7 linked regions of the Homo sapiens genome follow. The protein of the gene in region 1 purifies or fractionates together with the protein of each later gene. This does not show direct contact. Each region holds a gene or a part of one and is shown on either strand. Other genes may lie near its edges. The genes, in order: SCN2B, TNPO3, XPO4, HIP1R, INTS2, FAM118B and ORC5.

Region 1 (4,129 bases):
TTATGACGTTAGCTTATTTTTTCTTCCTTCTTCAAAAGAAAAGTTTTAAACATACACAAAAGAAGAGAGAACTATATGACAAACCCTTTACACCCATCACCAGCTAGTTTCAATTATCAAGCAAAACAACTAGTCTCGTGTCACCTATTCTCCCATCTCTTTTTTTCGTTGAATATATATATATGTATTTTTGAGATGGAGTCTCACTCTGTGGCCCAGGCTGGGATGTAGCGGAGTGATCTCGACTCACTGCAACCTCCGCCTCCCAGGTTCAAGCAATTCTCCTGCCTCAGTCCCCCCAAGTAGCTGGGATTACAGGCACACGCCACCACACCCGGCTAACTTTTGTATTTTTAGTAGAGACAGGGTTTCACCATGTTAGGGAGGCTGGTCTCGAACTCCTGACCTCAGGTGATCTGCCTGCCTCGGCCTCCCAAAGTGCTGGGATTACAGGTGTGAGCCACCCCGCCCGGCCACCCATGTGTGTCTTTAACAGATAGAGATGTTAAAGGACAAAACCACATTTTATCAGACCCAACAAAATTAAGAATGATTCATTAATACAATCTACTATGTAGTTCATATTTAACTTTTCCCAATTGTCTCAAAAACTTTTCTTTCCTGTTGATTTGTTTGAATCAGGTTTATCCAAAGGCCTGTGTTACATTCAATTGTAAGATCTCTTGGGTATTTTTCTATCAGCCTGCTTCAACATGTTCTGTTTTCAGAGGAAACGCTAGAATGAGGAAAGCATTACCCCTTGAAAGTCTCTCCAACTCACTTTCCTGAACCCTTTTCAATAACACAAAAACAAGCATCTCCTTTTTTTTTTTAGGTTTTTTTTTTTTTTTTCCCTCTGGAGGCAGGGCCCAGGCTGGAGTGCGGTGCAGTAGCTGGGACAAGAGGCATGCGACATTATGCCTGGCTAAATTTTGTATTTTTAGTAGAGATGGGTTTTGCCATGTTGCCCAGGCTGGTCTTGAACTCCTGGACTCAAGCAATCCATCCGGCCTCCCAAAGTGCTGGAATTACAGGTGTGAGCCACTGCGTCAGCCTGGGGGTGTTTTTAAATGATAAAAGGTGTTTCCCTTTCCAGAATCTTTAAAATAAATGGATTCCTCTAATAGCTTTCAAAATCCAACAATCATCCCAGTGAAGTCAAAAAGCAGGGTTTGTATTATTTCTTGTTTTAGAGGGTAAAAATTTCTGGGATTTTGTTCTTTTCAAAATGACTTTTTTATGCCCTCCCACCTGCTTTTTGAAATCCACCAACCACAATATTTACCCCATCCCCCTTTTCTCTCCCCCCCATCTCTCTCTCTCTCCTTTACACACTCCCTCTCTCTCTCTTTTTAGCAGCAACATACAAGCCGGCCATATTAGAGAGATGGAAATAAAGCTTCCTTAATGTTGTATATGTCTTTGAAGTACATCCGTGCATTTTTTTTTAGCATCCAACCATTCCTCCCTTGTAGTTCTCGCCCCCTCAAATCACCCTCTCCCGTAGCCCACCCGACTAACATCTCAGTCTCTGAAAATGCACAGAGATGCCTGGCTACCTCGCCCTGCCTTCAGCCTCACGGGGCTCAGTCTCTTTTTCTCTTTGGGTAAGTTAGACACATCTGCATGCTCCCGAGGGTTCAGAAGTGTAGCCGCAATGTGAAGAGGATGGGGGCAGGGGATAGGAAAGAAGACATTGCTAGCGCTTTCCCTCTGTGTCCTTGGGAGGGGAGGTGCTGGGGACTGGAAGGGACGTTGCTGGGGAGTGCAGAACCCTGGGACTACTTAGTCACAGAAATGTTGGGTCAGGGGATCTGAGTGTTGCTGGGGGCTGACAATTGTCAAGGGAGGTGAATCTTCTCTGGATTTCCCCTAAGTGGACCTACGTGGCGGTGGGGCAGAGAGTGGATTGACCTGCAGTCTCTTCAGGGATTATTTTTTGGAGTTGCTGCAAATGCGGGGTCCTGGGACTTAATGCTCCCTTAAGGGGCTTCTTTTCAGAAGCTTGATCCTGGTGGATTTAGGGTATTAGGAGAGTGTGCAGGGGAGCTGGTGGCAGAAAGTTGAGTCTGGGTCTGGCTTCTTGGCACTCGGTCTCACTGATCTGTTGGAACGTGTGTGGGAGTAGGTGGGAAGCGGGCTTGGGGAATGATGTCTGGGTTGGGAGGAGACCTGCTGAGGCACGCACTGATGGAGAAGGCACCTTTGGCTTGGGCCGGATGGAATGGAGGAAGGGCCAGGTGTAGAGATTCAGGAAAAAAATGGAACCCACAGGCTGAGCGAGGTTGCAGCCCTTTAAATCCAGCCTCAGAACTGCCCAGCCCAGTCTTGCAGACTGTCCTGTCAAGTGTTTGTATTTGACCACTCAGAGACTTCCTGGTGGGGAAGTGGGCTAGAAAGTTATTTGCAAGCCTGCTTTGTAGAGTTTCATTCTTGCTCCTAAACTTACTTATTGCTGGAGCAGCAACTGAGAGTCAAGTCCAAGGACTGTTGATGGAACTATTCCCCACCACAAAGGCTCTCTCTCTTTCTGTGGTGTGATGTGCTGGGTTTGGAGTAGGAGTGCTAAACACAGACAGTGCAGAGGCCCTGCCAGCCTGCTTTGCTGAGTTACTTGGCATATTAACATCAGAGCAGGAATGCTATGGAATCTCTGGCAGGACCTGGGTTTCAAGCCACCTTTGTCATTTACGTAATGATCACAGGCAAGTTACTCAACCCCTCTGAGCTTCAGTTCCCTCCCGGGTAAACTAAAGAATGCCTACTGCCTGACGTGTTTGTGATTTGGTGCATGGCAGGAACTCAACGATGGCTAACATAAGAATGCTTTTCGTGAGCCCAGGCACTGTGTATCTTGTTTAGCCCTCACAGCAATCGGAGGTAGATTCTATTATACTCAGGTTACAGGGAGGAAACAGATGACTATGGTAACGGGAGCTGAAATTTGAACTCCCTGTGTCTGACTTCAGCACATTCTCTTAAACGTTGGATTCCACTCCCCAATGTTCAAGAAATGGCACTGCTATATTAACAGTACCTAATTGATCAGAGTCTCAGGACAGGCTGAAAGAAGGGGAGTTGGGTGAGTGGCCTGTTGTAAGGAGGCCCAGCTGGAGGACAGGACCCTTTCCTCAGGAGTTAGGAAGCACTTCGTGCAGGAGAGAAGCCGCCTGGTGAGAGCCATGGCTAAGTAAAGATAGAAAGGGGGCTCAGTGACCAGGACCCAGAGCTCTGGGCTAGGGTGAGGAAGAGGGAGTCTGCGATGAAGAGGTCTGAGTGTTTGGGGTGGGGAGATGGTAGTGGGAGGAAGCTAAAGCTTCTGCAAAGCTGAGTGGGAGAGGATGCAGGAATGGGGACCTTGAACTTGAACTTGATTGGTGCTGTAATGAGGCATGTCCCTGGCACTCCAATGCTGAGGGCCGAGTTGACAGTGGAACTTTGGTGGTGTTGCAGTAGCATCGATCCCCAGGATGGAGGATGCCACAAGTGACGAGGGAGGGGACTCTGTCGGGGCTGGGCTTGTGGGGATGACTATGGAGGTGGCAAAGAGAAAGGGCAGGTGGGCAACCAGCTCTACCCACGGCAGAAGCATATGAGGCTAGTTTTAGCCAGAAACAATTCAAATGACTGGGCTTCCCTCAAGTTTTTCTTGAGACCGTTGACTCCACAGTCACTGGCCTGCTTACCAATGTATGGATTATGTTAGTGGAGGCATAGAAAGTGGAGTCTGGGCTGAGCATGGTGGCTCACGCCTGTATCCCAGTGCTTTGGGAGGCCGAGGTGGGAGGATCGCTTGAGGCCAGGAATTGGAGACCAGCCTGGACAACATAGCAAGACCCTGTCTCTACAAAAAAAAAAAAAAAAAAAAAAAAAAAAAGAAAAGAAAAATAAGCCAGGCATGGTGGCATGTACCTGTAGTCCTAACTGTTCCAGGAGGCTGAAGAAGGAGTATCAAGAGTTCCAGGCTGCAGTGAGCCGTGATCATGCCTCTGCACTCCAGCGTGGGCAGCAGAACCAAACCCTGTCTCTTAAAAAAAGAAAGAAAGAAAGAAAGAAAGAAAGTGAAGTCTAGTCCTCACTCTAGCCCACTGCACATATCTGCTGCTTGTGGTGGTGGGGACCCAGACAT
Region 2 (3,500 bases), on another chromosome or scaffold:
CAGGGGAGAGCAGTGAAGAAGTAAGTATTCTGCATTCTATTTAGGCTATTCATTTAAGAAGTTTGGCAGTAAAAGAGAGAAGAAAATAACTAGAAGGGAAAGGCAATTTAAAAAATATTTTTCTCAAGGTATTAGAAATACATGTGTATTTAAAGACCACAAGAAGGGCCAGGCGCAGTGGCTCACGCCTGTAATCCCAGCACTTTGGGAGGCCAAGGCGTGCAGATCACTTGAGGTCAGGAGTTCAAGACCAGCCTGGCCAACATGGTGAAACCCTGTCTCTACTAAAAATACAAAAATTAGCCAAGTGTGGTAGTGTATGCCTGTAATCCCAGTTTCTAGGGAGGCTGAGGCAGGAGAATTGCTTGAACCCAGGGGATGGAGGTTTCAGTTAGCTAAGATCAGGCCACTGCACTCCAGCCTGGGTGACAGAGCAAGACGCTGTCTCAGAAAAAAAAAAATTAAAGACCGCAAGAAGAAAAAAAGGGTTTTTTTTTTTTCGATAGAAAAAATTAGATCTCTGATAGACGTCTTCAATTCTAATTTCAGTTGGTTTTGTTTTGTTTTGTTTTGTTGTGACTTGGGGTTCCGGCTGTGTTACCCAGACAGACTGTAGTGGCCATTCACAGGCGAGATCCCACTACAGATCAGAATGGAATTTTGACCCACTCTGTTTCTGACTTGGGCTGTTCACCCCTCCCTCCTTAGGCAACCCAGGAGTGGTTCCTCACTCCTGGGAGGTCACCACATTGATGCTGAACTTAGTACAGGCACCCAATTGGTATAGCATGCTCTAGCCCAGAACACTGGGTTCAAGCTGTTCCCCTACCTGCGCCTTTGGAGTGGCTGGGACTATGGTGTGTGCTGCCATGCCAGGCTGACTTAGTTTTTAAAAAAGGAAATAGGAACACAAGTTATTTTTCACATTAAAAAAAAATTAATACCATCACATAGAAGATGAAGAGAAAAAAATTTTAAAAATTGCTAACTTTAATTCTTAACCATGTTTTCTGCCTTCAAATCATGAAAAATCTAAGCATTAATCTCTGTTGAAACCCATGTTCATTCCTTGGATACTAATAAACTCCTTCATTTTCTTTCTAAAGACAAAAAACTTCTGGACTTTGTGAATCCAGCTGTCATTTTACACACACCTGCATACACACACACACAGCCACGCGTGCACACACACACACACTTTCCTATTAAAGAGAAATTACTAAAGGGGAAAGAGTGCTTGGTCTTTGGGAAGTTGAGACTAGAATTTATCTGATGTTCCTGCTTTCCTACATACAGCATGAAGAAGACTTTGAATTACGGAAAGAACTGATTGGACAGGTGATGAACCAGCTTGGACAGCAGCTTGTCAGCCAGCTGCTGCACACCTGCTGCTTTTGCCTCCCCCCCTATACCCTACCAGATGTGGCTGAAGTGCTCTGGGAGATCATGCAGGTTGACAGACCGGTAAGATTGTTTTCATGAGGAATTTATCTCATAGTCCCTAAATGTAATAGGCTTTGGTTCCTTAAGGCCAACCCTAATTTTGAAACTAGCCCTGTTTTCTGTCCATGGAACCAAATTTAGGCATATTGCCAAATTAGATTGGTAGATGAAGAGGCCCGTAAAGATCAGTAATTTATTATTGAGTTCTTTAAAGCATGTTTCTATGTCACTGTCATAGGGGGTATATTACCAGAAGTAAGTATCAAGCATTGAATTCAGTTGTGTGGCTGTCCAATGTGAAATTTGTTCACTTGTGAGAGATGCCCAAATGTCAGTTATATTAGTTACGTATTACTCAAGAAGTATTTAATCCTTTCAGACTTATTCTATAGCACTGTATTATTTCTTGGTGATACATCTAGCCAGAACATTTGGAAGCACATAATTGTCAAAGTAACCCACAATGTACAGTTGGATATATTTCCCCTTTGGATTTCTTTGAACCAGATCCTTTATCACCCACCTAAGGATGGAGTTGTTTTTTTAAAGCTATCTAATAATGCCCAAGTAATTTCAGTACTGGGCCACATGACCATAACTCAGGTTATGTGTACTGTGTGAAAGTTGAGTAGAATGGTAAAGTATAATATAACCTGAAATCATTTTTAAAATGGAATTTATAATTTTTAATATTACTGTAAAAGCAGTTCAGGAAAGTACTCATTGGGACCTAGTTAAAGTGAGCTGTCTTACAGAACCACAGAATATAAAATTGATAATAATAATATATAACAGATAGTACCTATTCCTCTCTGGTTCAATACACATGTTCCATTTCAACCTGATAGAGTAGCATATTTGTTTTTCTAAAGAAAAGTACTTTTTGAGCCTCCAGGAATCAGCAAATTTAATTCAAAAGTCCTTGACCTGAGGGAAAAAGTCTTCATACTCTGCTTAAACTTTTTTACAAATACATTTGGTTCCCAAGTAACAGAAAACTTATGTAAATCTAACTTTATGAAAACATTCTTGATTGTAAGCATATTGTTAAGTGCGAACAACAACAACAAAAAATGAGAACAAGAAGTTTGGACAGGAATAGAAACCAGGTAGCCATGTACTCTAAGGAGTGTACTGTATATCAGCCAGACACAATGGCTCATGCCTGTCTTCCCAATACTTTGGGAGACCAAGGCAGGAGGATCACTTGACGCCAGGAGCTTGAGACTACCAGCCTGGGCAACATAGACCCCATCCCTACAAAAAAAAAAAAAATTTTTTTTCTTTTTAATTAGCTGGGTGTGGTGGCATACATCTATAGTCCCAGCTACTCAGGAGGGTGAGGTAGGAGGATTGCTTAAGCCCAGGAGTTCCAGCCTGCAGTGAGCTATGATCATGCCACTGCACTCCAGTCTGAGCTGCATAGCAAGACCCTGTCTCAAAAAAGAAAAAGTTTGCTATATAACAACTATTATGTATTTTTAAGAATTAAGGAGCTGTTATGTATCCATAATTAAGAAATGCTTAGTACTTCATGAGCATTTATAATACTTTTGCTCTGGCCTATTATGGCCATAAATGAATATGATGGGAAAATATATAATGTAAAAAAAATTAGGTATAAAAGAGTAATTTTACAGCCCAAAACTATGACTGAAGTATACATTCCACTTAAGAAAGGGATGAAGAAATATTAGTGCTGACCCAAAGGACAACAATTAAACTGAAAATAAGAACCCAGAGGAAGTCTGTAGAATTTTTATTTTAGAAAGGAAGGAAGTAAAGGGAGTAGACAATTTTTGTGCATAGAAAAGGCATAAAGAGAATTCTTAGATATACTTATATAAAAAATATATAAGTAAATTAAACAGCAACAAGAGCAAGGTTTTTTAACACAAAGAACAGGCAGATATCACAAAGGAACTGAATGGATAGGACTTATTCTGAGAGAGATGGCCTTAAAATCCTTAAGATTCTGGACTCATATGTCTCATATGTATACTTTCTGACATGGTGGCTTAGTATACTTTTTGCCCCTGCTCTTTCAGGTATCTGAA
Region 3 (3,500 bases), on another chromosome or scaffold:
TTTTTGCTTAATTTTTCATTAGGTAACTCATATAGTTGTTTTATGGAAATCAGCATAGAATTTTAGAACATAGAAGAATCTTAGATCTTTTGGTACAGAAGTCTTAGGGAGTCTAGGATGAATATCAAAAGGAAATTGTAACAAATTTTTTGGTGTAAATGTACATTTTTAGTAATAGGGTCTAGAGCTTTTATCACCGTCTCTGAGAGACTAGAAACTGAAAAATAAGAATCAAGTCTAAGCATTCTCCCTTCTATGCTACAGATGGGGAAACTGAGGTTCAAAGAGGTAGAAGTGACTTGCCCAAGGTAGGTCACAGAGCAAATTCATGATATAACTGATCCAGGCTGAGATCACCAGACTCCCCTTTCAAAACCTTTACTCTTTTTTTTTTTTTTTTACTTTTTTTACTCAACCATGTTGGTTCTTAGTCAACATATACTATAAATGTTACATTTTATTACTTGATGGAAAATGTCTAAATATGGTACATCTATATTCAATCAATTTAGATTATTGGATAAGCTGCCAGATAAAGTAGTACAGTTGTCCCTCGGTGTCCATGAGAGGTTAGTTCCAGGAACCGCCTCCACCCATGGACATCAACCGTGCATTGATACTTAAGTCCCCCCGATCCCCTCCCTTTCTTTTGAGACAGGGTCTCTGTTGTCCCAGCTGGAGTGTAGTGGCATGATCATGGCTCACTGCAGCCTTGAATGGGTAATTTTTTAAAAATATTTTTTTGTAGAGAGGATCTCACTGTGTTGCCCAGGCTGGTCTTGAGCTCAAGTGATACTCTTGCCTTGGCCTCCTAAAGTGCTGGAATTATAGGCGTAAGCTACTGTGCCCAGGTGAGTTTCTTACATGATATGGTATGGTAATTGTGTATGACCTATGCACATCCTCTTGTATACTAAAATGTAGGAGGTGTTTTGATTTTAGAGACAACATTATTGAAAAGTTTAGTGTTCTTATAGTATTGATGCCACATTCATTTGCAGTCCAAAGAGCGCTTTATTTATTGTCTTGAATTTGCTTGGTTTTGTTGCCCTGTCTTCATTAGGTTGTTTTGGATTGTCCTTAGTGATTGTGTGTAGCAATAATATAAGATAGTGCAGAGCACACATATTAACTGATACATTATAGAAAAGTAATTTTCATAGGTTTTTTTTTTCCTTTTTCTTTTGAGACAGTCTTACTCTTGCCCAGGCTGGAGTGCAATGGCACAATCTCAGCTCACTGTAACCTCTGCCTCCCAGGTTCAAGTGATTGTCCTGCCTCAGCCTCCCAAGTAGTTGAGACTGCAGGTACCTGGCACCACGCCTGGGTAATTTTTGTATTTTTAGTAGAGATGAGGTTTCAACACGTTGGCCAGGCTAGTCTTGAACTCCTGACCTCAGGTTATCCTCCCACCTTGGTCTCCCAAAGTGCTGGGATTAACAGGCGTGAGCCACCGCACCCGGCCCATACATTTGTTTTTAAACCAGGATGGATTTAGTGAGTGTAAATCCAACTTTAATAAACGAGATTCATGACTGGTTTTCATAGATTTTATTATAGTGGAATCTGGTTAATATCTTCTAAAATACTTGCACATCTGTAGTCCTATAGAAAAATTTTTGTCTTCATTCTCATATCAGTCCTGTGAAGTAAATAGGATGAGATATTCCTAAACCTTATAAATGAGAAAACCTGGCCAGGCATGGTGGCTCACACCTGTAATCCTAGCACTTTGGGAGGCCAAAGTAGGTGGATCACCTGAGGTCAGGAGTTCGAGACCAGCCTGGCCAACATGGCGAAACCATGACTCTACTAAAAATACAAAAATTATCTGGGCGAGGTGGTGCATACCTATAACGTAATCCCAGCTACTTGGGAGGCTGAGGCAGGAGAATCACTTGACCCCAGGAGGCAGAGGTTGCAGAGATTGTGCCATTGCACTCCAGCCTGGGCTGTAGAGCGGGACTCTGTCTCAAAAAAATAGAATAAATAAATAAATAAATATGAAAACCTGATATTCAGAGATGGCAAATGATTTGCCTGTTGTCATGTAGCTAGTTTGGATCTGGAATCCAATTTCTGGCCATTGATTTGTTTTAGAACATTTCTTCAGTATATAGAAACACAGCATGTTAGACACTATGCTGTGTATGCTGAGGAGACAGAAGAAGCACCTTCTTTTCAAGGAGTGGAGAAAGGCAAAAATATTAGCAAATGTTGGTTGGTAAAGTTATAATAGAAGTAGGTACAAACATCTATCTCAGGCTGAGATAGGGACTGAGAAAGGGCTTCTTGGAATAGGTAACCCTTAAGCTGAATCATGAAAAATAGATTAGAGTTTTCTAGTTTGATAAGCAATATCCCAGGTGGAGATATATATTTTGGGGAATATAGTCTGAGAGAATATAGTTTGGGGAAATACAGTGAGTTTGAGGAATATTTGAGCATTTATGTAGTAGATATTTCCTGAGACCTTCAATGTGTAAGGTACACTGCCTTTATTTTTTTGTAACCACAGTACACGTCATAAAAATGAAAATTTTAATTAATTGAACCTACTTTTCTTATTTGAAAGATGCATTATAGTAAGTATGCATTTTTGTTTATTTCAGCCCTGTCTTGTAGTACCTGCGGTGGCACTAGATATTAGAAAACTGGCACAGCATTCTTTTTCTCAAAAAAGCTAATTAATAGGAAATTTATGTTTCAAATTCAGTTCAATTAAATGTGTATTTGCAGTTGGACTTGTGTCACACTAATTGGAACATAGCCAGTGATCCAGAGAAGAAATGCAAAAAGGCATTTGAAATCATCCATAGATGCCTAAAAGGCAGTTGTTAAAATTTAACAGCATTTTATGATTAAAACAATTGGATAAACTAGGAATTGAAGGGAATTCTCAATATGATAACAAATAGTTATCTGAAACCATGTATTAAATGATGATATCCTCAGAAGTAAAACGGGAGTCCTAATATAACTGTTATTTAATACCTTCTGGAGGGTCTAACTGATACAGTAATACAAAAAATGGGAATAAGTGCAGATATTGGAAAGAAAGGCCAAAAAATGATTATTTGCAGGTGATATGACATTTCGGAAAAAAAGTTTAAGCAAAATAACTAAGACTGTTGGAACCATTAGTTCTTTGGAAAGATGACCAGATGTAAGAAAAATAAATGGGTTGCAAGATTTCCTTTATATCAGCAGTGATCAGCTTAAAATTGGAAAAAAGATCCCATTCTGTTAGAAAGAAAAACTGTAGAAATAAATTATAGGGCACTGATAAGAAACATGCACCATTTTTGTGAAGAACATGATACAGCTTATTTGCAGAATATAAAAGAGCTGAATTAAATGAAGGCTATGCTCCTTGGTCTGAAAGGTCAATCCGGTTAAGGTGGCAATTTCTCCCTCATTCATCTCTAAATTGAATATAATGTCAATCAAAATCTCTCTTTCCTCCTCACCCTTTTCTGAGGTGGGAGAAAAATTAATTG
Region 4 (3,500 bases), on another chromosome or scaffold:
GGTAACTGGCTCCTACCTGGTGGGCTCTGTGCTGAGAGGCTCAGGCTCAGCACATCTCTGCCAGGACACAGAGCCTGGTAGCCCTGTCCTGCTGCACAGTTGGGGCCACACCTTTGGACACCTGCCCTCTGCTCTCCATGTCAGATCCTGAGCAGGCTCTTCCCAGGCACAAGGGTCCAACTCTGAGCCCACCTCCCACCCACTGGAACTGAATACCCATCAGGCTCGCCCAGCTGCACTGGCCAGACCTGGGGACTCAGGGAGGCTGCCCAAACTGCCTCTAACTCCCAATTTTCCCTTAAGGAGGCATTTGCTTCTTGCCCTCTTATGGAGAGCACTGAGTCACCCATGAGTTGTTTTGAAGCTGCCACCCAGAACAATCAGTTCTCCAGCCTGGAAGCTGAGCCCTCTGAGATTTCCTGTCCAACAGCGGCCGGGTTCCCTCGCTAGGAAGTCTGACGTGACTCAGAGGCTTTCTAGAGCAGAAAATGGCAGGACGACCCAAACCTTTCTTCCAGCTGGGCTCTGCAGATGGCCCAAGGCTGGGGCAGGAACCTGGCAAGGTGGCTCCTGTGCACACCTCCTCACCCTCCCTGTCTTGGGGCTGATGGAGTGACACTCACTGGATGGAAGAGATGGCTGAACCTGTATCCTGGATGTACCCGCTGGGGCCTGCCATGCTTTGGAGGGGCCAGGAGGCCCCATTACCTATCCCTGGAGGTGCAGGGACCCCAGGAGGGGCAGGGGCATTTCTTTTTCTTTTTTTTTTTTTTAAGACGGAGACTCACTCTGTTGCCCAGGCTGGAGTGTAGCGGCATGATCTCCGCCGCCCAGGTTCAAGTGATTCTCCTGCCTCAGCCTCCCAAGTAGCTGGGAATACAGGCGTGCGCCACCACGCCTGGCTAATTTTTATATTTTTTTAGTAGAGACAGGGTTTCACCATGTTGGCCAGGCTGGTCTTGAACCCCTGACCTCAAGCAATCTGCCTGCCTCGGCCTCCCAAAATGCTGGGATTACAGATGTGAGCCACTGCGGCTGGCCAGGGTCATTTCATAGTGATCAGTTGGTCTGATCACTCATGTCTTCTTTTTTCTTCTCGTCCCATCTCTGGGGACTTAGCAATACACTCAGACCCCCGCATCCCCTCTTTACGGCTCACCTGATTCAGAAAGCTTCAGCTCACAATCCATGTAATCAAACATCTCCACAGTGAGCTGGAAGCTACGCAAGAGAAGTGGGGGAAGAAATGAAAAAGGGTGGGTGGACCCACCCACTCGTCCTGAGACGCCCCCTCCAGTGGGGACGGGGGCACCGCCGACACCATGGCTCTGGTGAGACAGCGTGCCTCTGCCAGGACGACAGTCCTTCAAGTACACCCCACCCTTTTAACTTCACCCTCTGTCCCTGGGAGCGTGAGCATCAACCAACAAAGCCACGGACTCATTCAACCCCACTGCCCCATGCGGACGCCTGGGCGTGAGACGCGGTAGGAAGGAATGGGGAAGCCGAGGGGAACTGGCTATGTAGCCATGCAGAGTGACTCACATGTTGTTGACATCGGTCCCAGCTGCCTTCTCCAGTACCTCATCTGTCACCTCCAGGCCCGCGGGAAACTGGGGATGCTGTGGAGAGAACCCCCACCCAGCGGCCACTGAACCAGGGCCCCCCCACACCTGGCGGCCACCGAACCAGGGCTCCCCCCCACCCAGCGGCCACTGAACCAGGGCCCCCCACACCCAGCGGCCACCGAACCAGGGCCCCCCAACCCAGCGGCCACCGAACCAGGGGGCCCCCCCACCCAGCGGCCACCGAACCAGGGCCCCCCCCACCCAGTGGCCACCGAACCAGGGCCCCCCCCACCCAGCGGCCACCGAACCAGGGCCCCCCCACCCAGCAGCCACCGAACCAGGGGGCCCCCCCACCCAGCGGCCACCGAACCAGGGCCCCCCCCACCCAGCGGCCACCGAACCAGGGCCCCCCCCACCCAGCGGCCACCGAACCAGGGCCCCCCCACCCAGCAGCCACCGAACCAGGGGGCCCCCCAACCCAGCGGCCACCGAACCAGGGCCCCCCCCACCCAGCGGCCACTGAACCAGGGCCCCCCCAACCCAGCGGCCACTGAACCAGGGGGCCCCACGCTGGACCCTGCTCTTGGCAGACCCAGGCTGTGGCCCACATAGGTGGCAGAGGGCAGTGGAGGGGTTGGGAGGAGGGGAGCACCCGGCCAGCACAGCAGAGACTGAGGAAGCCCAGCGCTCATGTCCACAGAAACGCCTGGGGAAGCCCGTGCCCACGTCCACGGAAATGCCTGAAGTGTTCTAGGAGCTTCGTGATGCCCTGGCTTCCCCGTCTCCCCTTTAGTCATAGTTGGGACAAGAAGGTGAATGGAAAGACTCATGGAGAGGACAGATCCCACCCTCGATGTCCCAACATGTGCCATAACGTCACAGTGGGAAAAGCCCACGGGTCCCTCAGCCCCATGACTCCCCCGAGGAAACCACCTTGAGGTGGAAGGAGATCTTGGTCAGCAGCAGCTTGGTGTAGACATTCACCAGCTGTCCGTAGCGGTCATGCAAATGTCCCTGTGTGAAGACAGACAGGGTGAGGGGCCACGGCTCGTGAACACGTCCAAGAGTCCTCAAGGACCTGGGCACGAGAGTGACCCACCACCGGGCACTTCTTCATTCAACAAACGTCTTCTCCTGGCCTCCACCAACCACCCTCTCTGTCTCTAGCTTTTTCCCTTAATCTTCCTCCTTGTCATTCCTGCCAAAGAAACTCTTGTGAGAAGAGAGCTCTTTGTCCAGGGCGGCAGGCCAGTTCTGAGCAGGGACGCTTTATTAAAGTGCTGGTGCTGGCAGGGAGGCACGTCCCGACGGGCGCCTGGACACATCCTCCCTGCTCCCTCCTCCAGCCCCACGGCCCCTGCGGCCGGGCCAGCTGGGCCTGCATCTGCAGGTGGCACCATGGGCAGTGTTTTCCTCGCTTCAAGGGAAGTGAGTCCGGGCAGTGGTTCTGGGTTGGATAACGCCCTGGTCAGGCCTCCCTGTGGGTACCCGGTCCAGGGCCTGCCCTGCTCCTATGTCCCTGCCCAGGCAGACGAGCACCCCACAGTGCTCCAGAGAGAACCAGGCCAAGGCCCTCTGCCCACCAGGGACATCTCTAACTCCTGAGGTCTTGCAGTGCATCCAGATTGCAGGCCCCCCAGGGCTCTCAGGCCTTACTGTGTGTGTGCTCAAAATGCAGACCTCCAGTCCTGATTCTTCAGCAGCAGGTCTGGGGGAGCCCAGGAACCTGCGCCCTGCCACAGGCTCTCTAACCACCGAGGTGCCCGGGCTGTGGTCTTGCCACATTTCCCAACTCGTGAGGACTAAAGGGCCCGGGTGACTTCGACGCTGGAGGGCCCACTGGTTATGCGTGTGGAGCGCCCTGGGCCAGGCCCTCAAAGGCAGGCAGCATCTCCCCGTGCTGCCCCTCCCACTGTCGCCCCTGGGAAAACC
Region 5 (3,500 bases), on another chromosome or scaffold:
GTCAGGAGTTCGACACCAGCCAGCCAACACGGTGAAACCCTGTCTCTACTAAAAATACAAAAATTAGCCGGGCATGGTGGCACACACCTGTAGTCCCAGCTACCTGGGAGGTTGAGGCAGGAGAATCACTTTAACCCAGGAGGCAGAGGTTACAGTGAGCCAAGACTGCACCACTGCACTCCAACCTGGGTGACTGAGCAAGACTCCATCTCAAAAGAAAAAAAATATATATATAAAAATGTAGGGGCATGCTTTTATTTTGTTTTATTTGTAGGGGCATACTTTTATTGACACTTTGTGCTTGGTAAAGGAACGGCTCCTGAGAAGCTGGTAAATACAATGAATAGGCAAAAATCCAGTAATGTTGGCACTCAGGTTGCTGGTGACAGGGACCCGAACTGCATGAGCTGTGACAACCTAAAAGGGAAAAATAGCATTAGTAATATAATAGAACTAAATATAAAATTATTTTGAAAGAGAGATTAGTAAGTAGACTGTCAACACCTAATACAAGTGTGGTCCCTAGAAATGAATGATGAAAATAAATTATTACATGTTTTAATTGTCTTTGAATGCTGAGGAAATGTACATTTAGGGATTTATATAATTCCCTAATTTTTTGTTTATAAACATAGATACATACACAGTGGTGTGATAAGGTAAAAAAATAAAATAAAATTTTGAAGCATACAATCTGGGCTCAATGACTTTGAAGAAGTCATTTATCTTCTGAATCTTTTTCACATCTACAAAACAGGACACTGCCATACCTGCCTCAAAGCATTGTTATGGGGGGAAAATATTCTTTTTGGAAAAACATCATATGAACTATAAAGCACCACATAAATATAAACAGAAATATTTATTCTCAATATGTCATGCATAGGCTCTAATCGTCTTTTAAAGACCCTCTTCAAAGTTGTCTTCCAATTGGTTCAAATTTAAAGACAAAAAATAACTTATGATTCTCCCACATGCTGTGTGACTACTTGTAATTCAGGAGTATATGTGCATATGCGTGTTGAGGGTGGGAGGGATAGTAAAATATAGAAATAAAGATATTAATAGCCACAAAAAAGCAACAACTGGCCGGGTGCAGTGGCTCATGCCTGTAACCCCAGCACTCTGGGAGGCTGAGGTGGGTGGATCACCTGAGGTCAGGAGTTCAAGACCAGCCTGGTCAACGTGGTAAAACCCCATCTCTACTAAAAATACAAAAATTAGGCGTGGTGGTGTGCACCTCTAATCCTAGCTACTTGGGAGGCTGAGGCAGGAGAATTGCTCCAACCCAGGAGGCAGAGGTTGCAGTAAGCTATGACCATACCACTGTATACTAGCCTGGGTGACAAAGTGAGATAAAAAAAAAAAAGAAATGAAAAAAATCCTTATGCTTATCCATGGACAAAAGTGCTAAGGCTAAAGAAGAACATGTTAAGTATAAGAAATTTAGACTCTAGCCTGTAATCTAGTTAGAAATGAATTTTACAGCCTAAAGGTTTAAATAGGACTTCATTTTATCTTTCTCCAGACACATTAAAACAATTACCCCTTGAGATGCCCTACCAGCAACATCTAAGAGTATTCTCCTAAGTATCTACTCAAAGTCTCCAAAAATACATAAATTCAAAAGATGCCTTGGTATGTTATGACTAGTTTTAAAAGTGTATTTTAAATGGATTATTCTTTAAGAAAGTTTCAAAGATGAAATAAATCATCATGAGTTTAAAAAGAAAAAAGACCATATTATTTTCTTAAGGTAAGACACACAAGTTTTCTCCCAAAGAATATTGTAAAAGAAAGTTAAATAAGTACCTAAGAATAAAAAGAAATACCTGCTCAGTAAAAATTTCCTGTGTGAAGATTGTCTTCATCCTGCTCAAGGAGCTTGGCTTAATTACAATCTAAAATTACCAAAAGAATTCCAACAGCATGTAAAAATATATGAAACACAATTTATTCTAGGGAACTTATCTAAAATGGCTATGATACACATAAATGTTCAAATGTTCAAGTACTCTACTCTGTTTTAGAAGTGCTTTCCCAAACCCAACATTAAAGTGTTAATACTCAAAAACAGAACCAATATAAAAAGCACTTAATAAATACTATTATTGGCATTTTCAGTCGGTTGGGGGAAACAGATTATTTACTACATGGAGCTAGGATAGCTGCCCCTCTGTGAGGCCAAGAGAAATATGTGTGTGTGTGTATGTGTGTGTCTGTGTCTGTATATACGCACATATACACACACAAATATATGTATATATGTATATGTACAGATAGACACACATACACTTTTTGCACATATCACACCATACACCAAAAGAAACTCCAAGTAGATTAAAATGTTCAAATGTAAAACATGAAACCACCAAAAAAAACTAGAAGAAAATATAAGTGACCACTTATATAAACCCAAGAAAGGAAAACATTTCTAAGCATAAGAGCAAAATAGAAAACACAAAAAGAACATTTACAGCCAGGTGCAGTGGTTCACGCCTGTAATCCCAGCACTTTGGGAGGCCGAGGAGGGCAGATCACAAGGTCAGGAGATCGACACCATCCTGGCTAACACAGTGAAACCCCATCTCTACTAAAAATACAAAAATTAGCCGGGCGTGGCGGTATGTGCCTGTAGTCCCAGCTGCTGGGGAGGCTGAGGCAGGAGAATGGCATGAACCTGGGAGACGGAGCTTGCAGTGAGCCGAGATCGCACCACTGCACTCTAGCCTGGGCGACAGAGCAAGACTCCATCTCAAAAAAAAAAAACAAAAAAAAAACATTTAATATACTACATAAAAATAATAATGATAATAATTTCCACATGGCGAAGTTAAATGGCAAAAAATACTGGAAAAAGTCAATTATAACATATTGAACTCTCCACTTTTAAAGATACTATAAGATATGTCACTGATTTAATATTACAGTAGCTTTTCAAGAAAAAAGTAGGAGTTGGAACACTACCACTTTCATATTACATGTCAACTGTAAAATGAATCCCAATTTCAATACTGGGTAAAATATACGTCTTGAAATATATGAAGTAAGATGTATAAGGCATAATGACATATCTTTCCTTTTGAATCAGTGAAAGAAAAAAATAAATCAAAGTCCCTACAGGAAAATTAGGATACTGATCAGCTTTTCACAAAAGAAATAAACAAGCCAAAACACATAAATTTTAAATACTAAGTTTCACTAGTAATCAAAGAAATTCAAACTAAGTGATACCACTGTTCATCAACCAAATTTGCAAAGATTAAAAAAAAATAGTAATGCTCAGTCATGTTGAAAGTTTAGAAAAACAGTAGTTCTTACTAACGGTAAGAGTTAAACTGATACAATCTTTCGAAAAGATAATCTGACAGTACTCATGAAACACCTTAACATAGTCATACACTTTTCCTTAGCAATTACCTTCTAGAAATTTATCCTAAGAAAATAATCCAACAGGTGTATGAAGAGATACATGTGGGTGCCTATGTGTGTATTTACAT
Region 6 (3,343 bases), 8.1 Mb from region 1:
GGGAGGTCAAGGCTGTGGTGAGCCATGACTGTGCCATTGTACTGCAGCCTGGGTGAAAAAGCAAGACCCTGTATCAAAAATAGTAATAATAATAAAATAAAAATAAAGCTGGCACAGTGGCTCACGCCTGTAATCCCAGCACTTTGGGAGGCTGAGGTGGGTGGATCACGAGGTCAGGAGATCGAGACCATCCTGGCTAACACAGTGAAACGCTGTATCTACTAAAAATACAAAAAATTAGCCGGGTGTGGTGGCGGGCGCCTTTAGTCCCAGCTACTCGGGAGACTGAGGCAGGAGAATGGCGTGAACCCAGGAGGCAGAGCTTGCAGTGAGCTGAGATTGCGCCACTGCACTCTAGCCTGGGTGACAGAGAGAAACTCCATCTCAAATCAATAAATAGGCCCGGGCATGGTGGCTCACGCCTGTAATCCCAGCACTTTGGGAGGCCAGGGCGGGTGGATCATGAGGTCAGGAGACCGAGACCATCCTGGCCAACATGGTGAAACCCCATCTCTACTAAAAATACAAAAAATTAGCCGGGCATGGTGGTGGGCGCCTATAGTTCCAGCCACTCAGGAGGCTGAGGCAGGAGAATCACTTGAACCCAGGAGGCGGGGGTTGCAGTGAGCCGAGATTGTGCCACTGCACTCCAGCCTGGCGTCAGAGCGAGACTCCATCTCAAAAAAAAAAAAAAAAAAAGTACCACAACGACTGCTTGTATGGTAATGGATTATAAGAATTATTTTTCTTTTTCCCACTGCTTGATTTTTCCAAAATATGTGTAACTACATACTATAGAATCCTTTGAAGACAATTAATTTCCACTATGCAAAAGTGAGTATACAGCACAATGCCAGGCACATAGCAAAGGTTCAGTGTTAAAAAACAAAATAACAGCAAAAGACCTGTAACCTCTCATTAGTCTATATCTACAGAGACTCAAAACATTATGCAAGGGTGAAAGATAAGGTTGACTCGTTTCAAAATGAAATGATGTTTTAACCTGAAACTGCTCTACTACATTTCACATGACAAACTCAGCTGACCATTCCCATAAAGCACTCTGGCCATACTGAAAATCCTTGATTTTGTTTAAAGATACAGAACACCTTAATGATGGGTAACTTCGGGGAAAGCTACTCTGGTAGGAAGCCTACACAGCTAATAAAAGAATTTGTGCCATTCCACAATAGCAGTTAAGGTTCCTTAGAGCAATCTTAGTGCACTAAGGAACCTTACTGCTTCTTTGTTATGTAATGCAACAGTCTAAAGACATATTTATTTTTTGCTAAGATTTAGTGCAACAGAAACAGTTATGCAGACGGATTTTGCTGTTTTAAACTTTAGCATCTTTCCTCAGCATATAGATCAAAAGAAATATGTAGAACTTGGATATGTATGTCTTGTTAATGAAAACAACATGTGCAACAGAAAAGCCTTCTCAAAGTCTCAAGTGTGGGCAAACAACAGCAGGAGAGTCTAGAACACTGCAGGACACCAGAAAAACTCATTTCCAACAAAGAATAGTAAATAGTTTTCACAAATGAGACTTGTTCATGTGGTGATGGCTTTTAAAAGTCTGGTTCCATCAAAGCATAGCCATGGAAGAAGCTGTGTAATTTTTCATTACAGGAGAATTCTACTTGAAGCCATCTGATTCAGTTAAGAAATCTGGGGATGATTTGATTTAGGAAAACTGCTTTATGTTTATTAAATTACCTGTATGTTATTTATTTTAGAAACAGCGTCTTGCTTTATTGCTCAGACTGTAGGGCAGTGATGCAATCATAGCTCACTGCAGACTCCAACTCCTGGGCTCAAGTGATCCTCCTGCCTCAACCTCCCAAGCAGCTGGACTACAGGTGTGTGCCACCACACCTGGCTAATTTTTTGCAGAGACAGGTTCTCACTATGTTGCTCACACTCATCTTGAACTCCTGGCCTCAAGTGATCCTCCCACCTGGGCCTCCCACAGTGTTGGGATTACAGGACAAATTACCTGTACTTTTGCCCTCCTAAGATGCATTCAGGTTGACAATGAAAATACTTACATAAGTTTTCAGGAAATATTCTGTGCACAACAGCCAAGTTTTTTTGGAATTAGATGGATGAGTCACACTAGCCATACTCTGGAGCCTGGCAATGTGAGGTTTTGAAAAAGCATTCTTCAGTTTAGCTGATACCAAAAATGTTTGTGTTTTGTGCGGTTACTGGGAATTTGCCTGCAGCCACTAATCAGCTGAATCTTTAATCACCATTTTGCTCTTTATTGTTAGAATGTGGAGGTAAAATATCAAGTGTATGATACCCCTATCCTCTGACTTGAATATCACCATTATCCGTTTCCAAATAGCATTTCTAAAAGTAAGTTTTCTGTTTGTAAATATAATACATAATCATCATAGAAAATGCCAATACAGAAACCAAAAAATCAACACTTTAAATCCTACTAAAGATAGCCACTTAATTTAGTAAACATTCCAGATACATTTCTACACGCACCAAAAAAAAAAAAAAAATGTACAATTCTATATGAATATAGCTGACCATGGTATTTACAACCTGCTTTTTCTTCCTTTACTCATATGTCTCTAACTTTTTTTTTTATGGCAATGAAAACACTTTCCCTTCTATGGTTTCATTGTATTTCATCAATTAAATAAATATTGGCATATCTGTAGAATCTCCACCAATTTTAGGATCCTTCCAATTTTTTGCCACTACATTCAATGGAAATTACATTCCCACGCATGCATCTTTGTACAATTGTGTGATTGTGCAATCATCCAATTATCTCCTTATGAGAAACTTCTAGGATAAATTGTTTTGATGGGATTTCTAGGTCAAAGATTTGAAAATTTTTGTTACATCTTCTAATTTATGGTCATAAAAGTTGTACTAACTTTACCTTTCCACAAATACTCCATGAATAAATTTATTTTCTCACAGCCTTAGCCAAAATTGGGTGATCTTTCTTCGCTATTTTGTAATCTAAATTCAAACTGCATTTCATTGATAACTAGTGAGGCTGAACATCTGTTTTCTTCATTCTTCCTATGTCTATATTGAACTGCTCAAGTATTCCTTTTTGTCTGTCTTCCCATAATCCAAGTGGCACTTTAGTCTAACCTGAAGACTGTGGCCTCCTTTACAATTTGGTCAGTCATTACATTCCTCATCTTGGCAACTATTTTGCCCATCACATCACAAATACACAAAAGGCTGAAGAGCTGTTGTTCTCTGATTCCCCTCAGCTTCAAAATGCATCTTACCTGATGTACCCCTTGTGGAGATCTCACATGTCAGTCGCTTGAAATATTCTGGAAGATCGGCATAGTCATCT
Region 7 (3,989 bases), on another chromosome or scaffold:
TATGATTATAATATATGTATACCTTATATGCACAGTATGTTACGGACGTATAACCATCTTAGGAGAGTATCAGAGGCCAGCTTCCCTTGGAGACATTGAAATTTAATGGGTGGTCCCATTATAACCTTTAGAATTCTCTATTAAAAAGTACCTGGGCAAATGCTTTTGAATTGTTGCTGTGAAAATACTATTTTGACTAGCTAATACGTTATATACCACAACTCTCAAAAGATCCTTTTGACCATCACAAATCTAAGACTGATCTACAATCTATGGGCAGATTGAAGTCCACAATTTAAATTTATGTATAACAGGTAGTATGTACAGGATCTTCTACTCCTAGCAATAACCTAGCCAGTATTATCCCTATTTTATAGATAAGGAAGTTGAGGCTCAACTATTCCAAAGTCCCCCTATTCAGCAGTTGAGTCAGTCAGTGGTCCCAACCCAGGGGTTTCAGGACGCCAAGCTCTCTTTCCACCATGCACTTGCCTACTTCTGTATCTTATTTCCAGAATCTTCTAGTGTTTAGTCGCTAGTAGGTGCCTCACAAATAAATACACGTGAAAGCCTAATGCTAAAAGTAGCATTATTTTTACTATCAACCTCACCAACACACACTACGACTTCATCCCATTAGGACTGAGAGGCTTTCCACATCTGGTTTAAAGCTTGCACAAAAAATAGTAATTCCAAGCTGTGCATTAAACCCCATTACACCCTGTTTTGTACTCAATGCCACTAATTTCCCACAACGTCGTCAGGGAAAAAAACGACAACAAAAACATCTTTTGACAATATTAGTCTTCTAAGTCCGCCTTCCACGTCCCTCTAAGGGCCCCAGCTCCGGGTCCGTCTTCTTAGGCACTCAAGGTTTCTAAACTTGGGGCTTCCAGCCGGTAAAACTAAAGGCACGGGGTTCAGGGGTCATTGGAGGCCCACGGGACCCCCTTAACCCCTTCCACCCCTTCCCTATTCGCCCATCTCCATGTCGTCTCCTTAGCCTTTGAGTGGAAAAAGCGTCAGCCCGAAATCCCCACCAAGCCCAAGAATGGGCAAAACCTCGGCGCGCACAGGACCAGCGAGAAGAGGATGGTTCCGGCCCTGAGACTAGAGCGGCGGCGACGCTCGGCGTACGCGCTGCCGTCACGCCGCAGCCCGGCAGCGCAGGCTCCTCCCACGACGCTGCGGGTCCGGTTTCCGGCGGGAGCGTGGGCCGCCAGACTCGGGAGAGGCTCCGTCTTGTGCAAGGGTCCTGTGGGCTGGCTGCACTGGCCTCTGCGGTGGTGCCTGCCAGAATGCCCCACTTGGAAAACGTGGTGCTTTGTCGCGAGTCTCAAGTGTCCATCTTGCAGTCCTTGTTTGGAGAGGTATTGTAGTTAAACTGTCTTCCAGATCCTGGAGGCAGACGTTTCGGTAGTCTTGCGACCTGTTCCAATATTTGTTTTTTCGTGTTTGGATTGAGGGCCAAAAGGCCGTTTTTACGTTAAATAGGGGTGTTGTGGTTCTGTACTGCAGCTTCACCCACAGTCTCTTCCGAATATTGAAGAGGAGACAGTCTGAGAGCGACCGGCCTGCACTATAGGACGTTGCCTAAGACGTATTTGAAACACGCCACACTTTTCAGAAGTTTGCCCACATTAGCTCCTAGAAGTTGCTTGTTATCTTACCCCAACCCAATGACATTTATGTAACAGATGTGTTTGCAGGGTGTTATTTATTCAAATGTAAGTTCACACGTTTCTGTGCGGTAGTTGGAGTGAGTCAAGTGTAGAGAGGTGGTTGCTTTCAAGGCCACTAAGGGCCAAAGCAGTGCTTCAGGTTTAAAAATTTACTGGCTTTTCCAGAATTGTAACAGTCCAGAAGAGGTCTAGGGTAAACTTTTCTCCTTAACTGATAGTTCACAGGATGCCCTAGAGAGGAGTTTGTCTTGTCTGGATGAACATAGATACGTAGGGAGTCCTTTCAATAGGCAGAGGGTAGCGTTCACCAATTCAAAATTTAACCTATTTTTGACTATTTTCTGGTGGTCTTTGATGTGCTTTTTGATTCAGACTCAATCAGAATTGGAATTAATCAAACTTGGATCTTACCTGCGAAGAGAGTGAATGAGAATTCAGGGTCATACTCATACCCCCATCTTCTGGTTTGCTTTTTTAAGTACAGTCATGCGTTGCTGCCACTTAGTGAGGGGGATACGTCCTGAGAAATGCATCGTTAGGCAATTTAATCCCTGTGAATATCAGAAAGTGTATTTACACAAACCTAGATGGTGTAGCCTGCTATACACCTAGGCTGTATGGTGTAGCCTGTTCCTCCTAGGCTATAAACCTCTACAGCGGTGCTACTATACTGAATACTGTAGGCAGTTGTAACACAGTGATAAGTCTGCATCTAAAAGTGTCTAAACATAGAAAAGGTACAGTGAAAATAGGGTATTATAATCTTATGAGATCACTGTTGTATATGTGGTCCATCTTTGAATGTACACGTGACTGTACTTTCATCCAACTAGAAATATTGCATGGCAATTTGAGGTGGCCTGTGAAGCATTAGTGGAAAAGTACTACCCTCTGTCTAAAGGGGTGCATTATTTAGGGAAGTTAGAGGTCAACAACTGCATCTTCAATTAATTTTCTATTTATACTGCTTTCAATTATAGTTATATTATTACTGGAGCATTTTCTTGATTATGTTCTCTGCATTTCATCTATGGAACGCAGATCACTCCAGCCAGAAATGTTCCTGCTGAAAGAGCAAATTGGCAAATAGGGATGAGTAAACTTAGTGGTGGATCACAGAAGAGTTTTTGACCTTTGCTTTTAATGAAAATTATGTTTAACAATATTTTAATATCAGTTTTCTGCAAGGTGCTGTGCATGTGGGAAATACAAACAACTATAGCAAAGAAATATAAAAAATTGGTTCATGTTTCTAAGAATACTCATTTATTTGTTCAATAAATAAATATTTACCGAGCACCTTTTCTGTGTCAGGTACTAGCTTATTGCAGTTTATGTTAGCGAGATTTATGAAGGTGAAAGGTTAAATAACAGTGGAACAGTTCAATATAATTCTAGGTCACAATAGAAAAGATGTTTAAGGTATTATTAGGCAACAACATGTAATGGATAGCAGAGATACTCAGCAACATGCATTTAATTCTTGAGACAGAATTTTTTGTTTTTGTTTTTTGAGACAGGGTTTGGCTTTCTTTCCCAGGCTGGAGTGCAGTGGCATGATCTTGGCTCACTGCAGTCTCTGCCTCCCAGGCTCAAGCAGTCCGCCCACCTCAGCCTCCGAGTAGCTGGGACCACAGGTGTTTGCCTCCAAGCCTGGCTATTTTTGTGTTTTTTGTAGAGATGGGGTTTCACTGTATTTCCCAGGCGAACTCCTGAACTCAAGTGATCTGCCTGCCTTGGCCTCCCAAAGTGTTGGGATGACAGGCTTGAGCCACTGCATCCTGCTGAGACAGAATTTTTGGGCCAGTTAATTTATGATTGTTACATATAAACTTCAGAAAAAGATTCATGTATTACATTACCTATTCATTTCAAGTAAATTTTTAGTCTATTTTTAGCAGTTGAGCTGCTTTTGCCATAGCTGTATGCCATTTAGAAAGTCTTTTTCCTGCGTAAATCTGAGTTCCTGATTTGTCTTGTAAAAGGAAATGTTTAACTTAGTGACTTGAATGTAATAAATGTTTGTGACTGTTGCTGTAATCGATGATAATTAATAGAGACTTAACTTTCTGATAGAAATTGCATAATCCCATTTTCTTGTAATTATTTAAAAAAATGTATTATTAAAAAATAGGCCAGGCACAGTGGCTCACACCTGTAATCCCAGCACTTTGGGAGGCTGAGGCAGGCAGATCACAAGGTCAGGAGTTTGAGACCAGCCTGACCAACATGGTGAAACTCCGTCTTAACTAAAAATACAAAAATTAGCTGGGTGTGGTGGCACACACCTGTAATCCCAGCTACTCA

Evidence for each region.
Region 2: the proteins of SCN2B (region 1) and TNPO3 purify together in Homo sapiens (affinity purification with mass spectrometry; 4 studies listed by BioGRID and IntAct, with this or other methods). This does not show direct contact.
Region 3: the proteins of SCN2B (region 1) and XPO4 purify together in Homo sapiens (affinity purification with mass spectrometry; 4 studies listed by BioGRID and IntAct, with this or other methods). This does not show direct contact.
Region 4: the proteins of SCN2B (region 1) and HIP1R purify together in Homo sapiens (affinity purification with mass spectrometry; 4 studies listed by BioGRID and IntAct, with this or other methods). This does not show direct contact.
Region 5: the proteins of SCN2B (region 1) and INTS2 purify together in Homo sapiens (affinity purification with mass spectrometry; 4 studies listed by BioGRID and IntAct, with this or other methods). This does not show direct contact.
Region 6: the proteins of SCN2B (region 1) and FAM118B purify together in Homo sapiens (affinity purification with mass spectrometry; 4 studies listed by BioGRID and IntAct, with this or other methods). This does not show direct contact.
Region 7: the proteins of SCN2B (region 1) and ORC5 purify together in Homo sapiens (affinity purification with mass spectrometry; 4 studies listed by BioGRID and IntAct, with this or other methods). This does not show direct contact.

What each region holds. Positions count from the first base shown.
Region 1 is NC_000011.10:118,173,840-118,177,968, reverse strand, and holds the start of SCN2B (sodium channel regulatory subunit beta-2 precursor), read left to right. Parts: upstream 1-1,329; 5' UTR 1,330-1,537; coding exon 1,538-1,607; intron 1,608-4,129. UniProt on the Homo sapiens protein: Regulatory subunit of multiple voltage-gated sodium (Nav) channels directly mediating the depolarization of excitable membranes.
Region 2 is NC_000007.14:128,968,112-128,971,611, reverse strand, and holds part of TNPO3 (transportin-3), read left to right. Parts: intron 1-1,296; coding exon 1,297-1,464; intron 1,465-3,500. UniProt on the Homo sapiens protein: Importin, which transports target proteins into the nucleus. Specifically mediates the nuclear import of splicing factor serine/arginine (SR) proteins, such as RBM4, SFRS1 and SFRS2, by recognizing phosphorylated SR domains.
Region 3 is NC_000013.11:20,896,247-20,899,746, reverse strand, and holds part of XPO4 (exportin-4), read left to right. Parts: intron 1-3,500. UniProt on the Homo sapiens protein: Mediates the nuclear export of proteins (cargos), such as EIF5A, SMAD3 and isoform M2 of PKM (PKM2). In the nucleus binds cooperatively to its cargo and to the GTPase Ran in its active GTP-bound form.
Region 4 is NC_000012.12:122,848,957-122,852,456, reverse strand, and holds part of HIP1R (huntingtin-interacting protein 1-related protein), read right to left. Parts: intron 2,583-3,500; coding exon 2,502-2,582; intron 1,623-2,501; coding exon 1,546-1,622; intron 1,222-1,545; coding exon 1,160-1,221; intron 1-1,159. UniProt on the Homo sapiens protein: Component of clathrin-coated pits and vesicles, that may link the endocytic machinery to the actin cytoskeleton. Binds 3-phosphoinositides (via ENTH domain).
Region 5 is NC_000017.11:61,893,483-61,896,982, forward strand, and holds part of INTS2 (integrator complex subunit 2), read right to left. Parts: intron 1,902-3,500; coding exon 1,833-1,901; intron 418-1,832; coding exon 283-417; intron 1-282. UniProt on the Homo sapiens protein: Component of the integrator complex, a multiprotein complex that terminates RNA polymerase II (Pol II) transcription in the promoter-proximal region of genes.
Region 6 is NC_000011.10:126,256,782-126,260,124, reverse strand, and holds part of FAM118B (protein FAM118B), read right to left. Parts: coding exon 3,273-3,343; coding exon of another isoform or gene 3,255-3,272; intron 1-3,254. UniProt on the Homo sapiens protein: May play a role in Cajal bodies formation.
Region 7 is NC_000007.14:104,205,214-104,209,202, reverse strand, and holds the start of ORC5 (origin recognition complex subunit 5), read left to right. Parts: upstream 1-1,189; 5' UTR 1,190-1,298; coding exon 1,299-1,370; intron 1,371-3,989. UniProt on the Homo sapiens protein: Component of the origin recognition complex (ORC) that binds origins of replication. DNA-binding is ATP-dependent. The specific DNA sequences that define origins of replication have not been identified yet.